2 linked regions of the Homo sapiens genome follow. The protein of the gene in region 1 purifies or fractionates together with the protein of each later gene. This does not show direct contact. Each region holds a gene or a part of one and is shown on either strand. Other genes may lie near its edges.

The links. Proteins that work in one complex are often made in the same cells at the same time.
Region 2: the proteins of CEP120 (region 1) and POMP purify together in Homo sapiens (affinity purification with mass spectrometry, with the first as the bait; one large-scale study listed by BioGRID). This does not show direct contact.

What each region holds. Positions count from the first base shown.
Region 1 is NC_000005.10:123,416,904-123,420,403, forward strand, and holds part of CEP120 (centrosomal protein of 120 kDa), read right to left. Parts: intron 1,613-3,500; coding exon 1,456-1,612; intron 1-1,455. UniProt on the Homo sapiens protein: Plays a role in the microtubule-dependent coupling of the nucleus and the centrosome.
Region 2 is NC_000013.11:28,669,130-28,672,629, reverse strand, and holds part of POMP (proteasome maturation protein), read right to left. Parts: intron 292-3,500; coding exon 198-291; intron 1-197. UniProt on the Homo sapiens protein: Molecular chaperone essential for the assembly of standard proteasomes and immunoproteasomes. Degraded after completion of proteasome maturation. Mediates the association of 20S preproteasome with the endoplasmic reticulum.

The DNA of each region.
Region 1 (3,500 bases):
TTAATAATATAACACATAACAGTGTTCTGAAAGAATGATATTGGCTTGTTTAGCATGGGCTGTTTTAGTTCGGAACCCCTCAACTGGCTCATGCATTAAGCTGAATGGATTTTGCCACTGCTTTTATCTAGTGGAGTTATTATAGAACTGCACTTAGCACAAAATCATCACTTATAAATTCAATTTATCTGTATTTTCTCAGCCTACAACAATCAGAGTGGTACTAACCTGGCACTAACAAAATGGAAGCCCTAACAGCTCATAGCAGGACTCCATTATAGACACCACTGAAAGGAAATCCAACATTGATATTCTCTAAGAATGCAATACTTCTTCAAATAAATCCATGGACTACTCTAGCAACAGAGGTAAATAGAGTTTTCCTTGCTTTCCTTTTTTTTAACTTTCCATTTTGATTTAATTTAGTACTGAGAACAAGCAAGTATTAAAGTGATAACATGTTTTCCAGAAGAAAATATATTTTTAATCCTTAAATAAATAAGAGTATTGCTTTTATTGTTGTTGCCTGCTTCTAGTCAGAGTTCACAAAAAATATATACTATAACTTTAAGTCTATTTTATATACTAATAAAGTGGTTTTGTTTAAAATTAAATATAAATTAATTAGAAAGAAACCTTGATAGAATTACTTTCATAACTTTTCACTGGATACCCCTCTATATATCCTTGGCAAGCCAGGTAAATATACAATAAATAAATTAACAGAAATTACAAGGAATTCCAACCATATTTAATAATGAGTAGGTATCATCAAGGTATTTCTAGAATATCTACTGTCTCACACATTAGGAAAAAAAAAAAACCCAAACAGCTCAGTGTAAGTGTAGTGTAAAAGCTTAGGCTCTGAAGCTGGATTGCCTGGGCTCTACCACTACTAAGCTAACAGACTTAAAACAAGTTACTAATACTTAACATCTCAGGCCTCGGTTTCCTCATCTATAATATGGGCGAAATAAAAATAACAACTTCATAGTGTTGTTCTGATGTTTAACTGTTATTGTTGCAAAGTACTTTAAAAATTTCCTGTCACATTTAAAAAAACACTCAATAACTATAATTATTAAACGTAATGACAGATACAAAATTTATAGGTTGAACATTCCTAATTTGAAATGCTCCAAATTCTAAAACTTTGAGTGCTGACATAATGCCACAAACGGAAAATTCCACACACAAGCATTTAACATACTTCATTTTATGAAAATTTATTTAAAATATTATATAAAACTACCTTTGACTATGCGTATAATGTAAAACAAATAAATTTCATGTTTAGACTTGGGTCCCATCCCCAAGGTATCTTTGATTATGCAGATATTCCAAAAATCCGAAAATACTTCTGGTCCCAAGTATTAAATACTCAAACTGTATTTATTTATAACAGCCTGAAAAATAAGAAACCAATAAAGAAGCTAAAATGAAAATGATAATCACCTGTGCTGATGAAGCGCTTTCCTGTCAATTTCCCAAGCTAACTCAGTAGCAAATTCTGGCTGGTCAGTGTGGTCCACAGGATCAGTAGCCAACTGTTCTCCATCAAACTTTGCTTCCACTACAAGCATATGCTTTGGACGTTTGGGGAAATGCCGACCTGGAGAAACAGAATATATAGATTAATCAAAAGTGTACAAAAATCAAACAGGATCATTTACCATGTGTTTTTTTGTTTGGCTGGTTTTTTTTTTTTTTTGAGATGGAGTCTTACTCTGTTGCTTAGGCTGGAGTTCAGTAGCGCAATCTCAGCTCACTGCAACCTCCGCCTCCCAGGTTCACGCGATTCTCCTACCTGAGCCTCCCAAGTAGCTGGGATTACAGGTGCACACCACCAAACCCAGCTAATTTTTGTATTTTTAGTAGAGACAGGGTTTTGCCATGTTGGAACTCCTGACTTCAGGTGATCTACCTGCCTCGGCCTCCCAAAGTGCTGGGATTACAGGCATGAGCCACCATGCCCAGCCTAGCATGTGTTTTTTTAAAACTAATGATCTGTTAAGTGTGGTTGACATGCATTCCATAAGCTACCTCACTAATGCAGGCTCACATATACACTCACTTCCATAATTCATAAGAAACATGAATCAAATGGAAAGCTATAATTTATAAATGTGTGCTTCTCAAACATTAGTGTGCACATGAATCACCTAGGGACCCTGTTAAAATGTAGATTTTGACTCAGTAGATTTAGGGTGGGCCTAAGATTCCGCATTTCTAACAAGATCCAAGGTGATGTGAATGCTGCTGTCCTTGGTCCACACTTTGAGTAGGAATGATCTCAACAACATCTGGAATTAAACACTTAATGTGATTACACGAATTTTAGGTACTACTATTGCACTACTTAATAGAGAACAGTCATCTGAAGAGCTGGGAAATAAATTAGTAAAAACAAATTTGCCTGCAGCTTAATTTTTCTGTTAACTCAGTTAAGAATACTTTCCTGGTGAAACCCCGTCTCTACTAAAAATGCAAAAAATTAGCCGGGTGTGGTGGCATGCGCCTGTAGTCCCAGCTACTCGGGAGGCTGAGGCAGAACAGCTTGAACCCGGGAGGCAGAGGTGGCAGTGAGCACTGCACTCCAGCCTGGGCAACAGAGCAAGACTCCATCTCAAAAAAAAACAAAAACAAAAACAAAAAAAAAAAAACAGAATACTTTCCAAATTAGCTAAAGAAAAATAGCCACATGGATTCCTTCATTCTATTCTCAAGGACAACACTGTACACTATCAGGAAATATTCAAATATTCTATCTACACATCACTTTTCATTTGTACTGCCAAACCCCATTTCATCAATGTTTACTGAAGACATATTCAGAGTCAGGTATTTTATCAGATGGTGGGGTACAAAATGAGTAAAACAGAGTACTTGCTCTAAAAAAACTGAGGATCTAGTTAAGAGAAACAAACCAAAAAAAACTGAAAATAGGAAGCTAAAGAACATCAACGAAGAAGCACTAAGAATCTTGCACTGAGTCAACTAGTTCTCTTGTTTATAAATCTGTTAAGGTGGATCTTATTGAGGGGAATTTTATCCATTGATTAATGAAGAAATCCCTGCTGCTACTCACCCTGGTACAAGCTACTTGTGGGGGAAGTGTAGGAATTAAGCTGTTAAAAAGACCTTGACTGCTAACCTTGTGAGTTAAAGCCTGAGGCTCTCATTGAAACTCTGTATTAGGAGTATTAACACACATCGCACAGCTCTCCCAATTAGCATTAACAGAGGCCCATCTCAGGACCTCATTTTCTGCTGCTCCAAAAGATACCTAGCTTCCCCAAATGAATGTCATATATGTCAAAGAACCTATATTTTCCATATTATTATAACTAGCAGCTTCCAACAAGCTTGAGAACAGAGGATGTGAAGGGAACAAACAGATGCCTGCCTTGCTGCAGACAATGATACAGAGATAACAGAAATGGTCTTTTTCATCCTTGGAATCTAGTACATAGCCCAAATTTTGTTCATGGTAAAAGCTT
Region 2 (3,500 bases), on another chromosome or scaffold:
ACCGCACCCAGCCAATCTTCACTTTTAAAAACAGTTAAAGAACAGTTACTACCATTAAACTTTATCTTAATGCAATGAATAAAGTGAACCCAATCAGCTGTAAGTTCCATGAGGACAAGAATTTTGCCTATTCTTTTTGCAGCTGTTTGCCTTTTAAATTACAAGGGCTCCATAAAAAGGTGCTGAATGACACTTACCATTAAGAATATCCTCAAATCCAATAGTCTCATCATTACCCCTCAAAACATCCAGTGAAAGATTTGAGCTTGAAAGAAATGGAAGACGCTGAACCTTTGGGGAAAAGTATGAAGGGACAAGATTAGAAAAAACTCAGGGGAAAATGACAGAATATATAGTCTAATTTCATGTTCTTTATTCTTTGTTTGAAAATTCGCAAAACCAAATACAAGATCAATTTAACAAGTGGAAAAAAACACTAGTTCATATTTTAGACACAAACTAAGTTGTAAAGACACTGAAATTATACTTTTCATTAACAATAATCCTACCTGGTGTGCATGTATTTTGAGGCTTTGCTTCTGCTCAGGAAAACTACGGCATATACCATGTAATGAAATGCAAAATCCCAGAGCTTAACATCACGCCTCATTCCTGATACATGTAGGATGATCAAATTCCTGAAGAAAGTCCAACTCAATAGGTTGCTTAGGCTGGTCTCAAACTCCTGGGCTCTAGTGATCCTCCCACTAAAACTGGGATTACAGGTCCATGTCACCAAGCCCAGCTAATGCAGATAATTTTTGATATTCCCACAGACTACCAAAATAGGTGGTCTTTGACTAAATGATAGTAGTATTTTAAAGATAATCACACCGTTAGAATCTAAGAGGGCAGTTTCTCACATTCCCCCCACCCCCAACAAAATGTATCCAGACTAAATATATTATTTTCAATTACTAATGTTCCATAGAGATATTTAAAATCTTTATAGTGTGGAAAAATTTCTCTAGATTGTCAAACCTAAAAAAAAAAAGGAAGTGGGAGGAAGAGGAAGAAACAAAAATAGGAACCTGTAAATTAAACCAGACAGCAAGGGGTCTGGTAGTTAGATCAGAGTACAGTCCTAAGAATGCATCAAAAGCAGGGAGGAGCAGGCAGCTGTTATACATCTTGACAACCCAAAACTGCAAAAGTATAGAGATAAGAAAAAAAAAAAAAAGACAGAGAATTCTGGGCAAAGATATTTGGATCAAATAGTATTAAAAACTTAAATCCAGAATTTGAGCAATCTGTAGTTGAAATCTGAGTAAGAGGAAAATAAAAAGGGAAGCTAACAATTTTGTGCCAAACATGTGATTTCATTTAATCTTCAGAATAATCCTATGCTACTCTTACTGTTCTCCTTATTTCACATTAAATTAAAAAATCTAAGGTTCAGAAAGCTCTCCAGCTTACTCAAGTTCTTAAGACTAGTAGATGGCTAAGCCAAGATTCAACCCTAGGTTACTCAAAACCATGTTTTTTAAGAGCTTTATCTTTGGAAAACGAGTAGCTTCCAGAATGACTTAGCCAAATACAATTGATAGTATTAGTAGAATTTATCTTATTATTATTTTTTTTGGAGATGGAGTTTTGCTCTTGTCGCCCAGGCTGGAGTGCAATGGTGTGATTTTGGCTCACTGCAACCTCTGTCTCCTGGGTTCAGGCAATTCTCCTGCCTCAGCCTCCCGAGTAGCTGGGATTACAGGCACATGCCACCAGGCCTGGCTAATTTTTGTATTTTTAGTAGAGACGGGGTTTCACCATGTTGGCCAGGCTAGTCTCGAACTCCTGACCTCAGGTGATCCATCTGCCTCGGCCTCCCAAAGTGCTGGGATTACAGGCATGAGCCACCCAGCTCGGCCAATAGAAATTTATTGAAAAAGACAATTTAGCTAGGTCAGAGAAAGGAATCTGCACCAGTAGGAGAAATGTGTGCAAACGCCTAACAGTGAAAGAACTTAATGAATTAGGAAACTGCAAGTAGTTTAAGAGGATAAGAAGTGTGGTGGGAAGCAAGGAGCCAATTCATGGACAGAGCCACACTAAGTGTTGGGTTTTATTTTTATTTAGAGGGTAAAGTGAGGGGAATGACATAATCAAATCTGTGTTTTACAAAGATTATTCTGATTAGAGTCTTAACAAGGATTGGAGGGGCAGCAGGGATGAGTGTTGCAGTAATCCAGATGAAGTCTGACAGGGGCAAGGACCAGCATAGTAGCAATGGTGGGGAGAGCAAGTAATAAACTGAATGATTTGGGGGAGCAGGGGAAGAGGTTAGGATGGGTGCTAGGTGACATAACCAAGGCTAATTATCCAATTTCTGCCTTAGGCAGAAACCTATTCATATGGGATAAGGAGTATGTGGGGGATTATGGGATTATGAGTTATTCTGTACTTGTCCATGTAAAACTGGAGGTGCCTGTGGGACTTCCAATTGGGCTTTCCAATTGGAAAAGCCTATAGGTTTATAGCTCATGAGAATTGTAACTTGGGGGTCATCAACATATTTTATTTTTTGAGACGGAGTCTCATTCTGTCACCTAGGCTGGAGTGTAGTGGCACGATCTCGGCTCACTGCAACCTCCGACTCCCAGGCTCAAATGATCCTCCCACCTCAGCCTCCTGAGTAGCTGGGACTATAGGTGTGCACCACCACGGCTGGCACATTTGTTGTATTTTTTTTTGTAGAGATGGGGTTTTGCCATGTTGCCCAGGCTGGTCTTGAACACCTGAGCTTGAGTGATCCACCCACCTTGGCCTCCCAAAGTGCTGGGATTACAGGTGTGAGGCACCACGCCCAGTTGGAATCATCAACATATAATTGATAACTAAAGCAACAAGTAGGAAATAGGGTCAGGAAAGGACTAGAGATGGGGCACTAACAAAACTGGCATTTTAGGAAACAGGCAAAACAAATGGAACCTACACAGAGACACCTGAGAACAAGGATTCAGAAAGGAGGACATCAGGAAAGTGTGGTGTTCTAAAAGCCAAGGAGGTGGGATGATAGCTTGAGGCCAGGAGTTTAGGACCAGCCTAGGCAACATAGCAAGAGCCCGTTTCTACAAATCATAATTTTTAAAACTAGCCAGGCGAGGTAGCAAGTGACTGTAGTCCCTGCTACTCAGGAGAGTGAGGCAAGAGGATTGCTTGAGCCCAGGAGTTTGAGGATGCAGTGAGCTATGATCATACCACTGCACTCCAGCCTGGATGACAGAATGAGATCCTGTATCAAAAAAATAAATACAAAGTAAAAACATAAAAGCCAAGGGAAAAAGGAAGAAGCCATTATTAGTGTCAAATACTACAGGGAGATGAAGTAAAGTGAAGGTAAAAATGTCCACATTGTTCAGGAGCAGTTTCATTGGTGTCATGGGAGACAGAAACAGTGGGTTAAATAAATAGCAGGGAAAGGAGTATAGAAAGCAAATGTAGACAACTTTTCAAGAAGCAAAAGCACACTCAATGAGAGACAAGTTACTATAAAGGAATTTGAA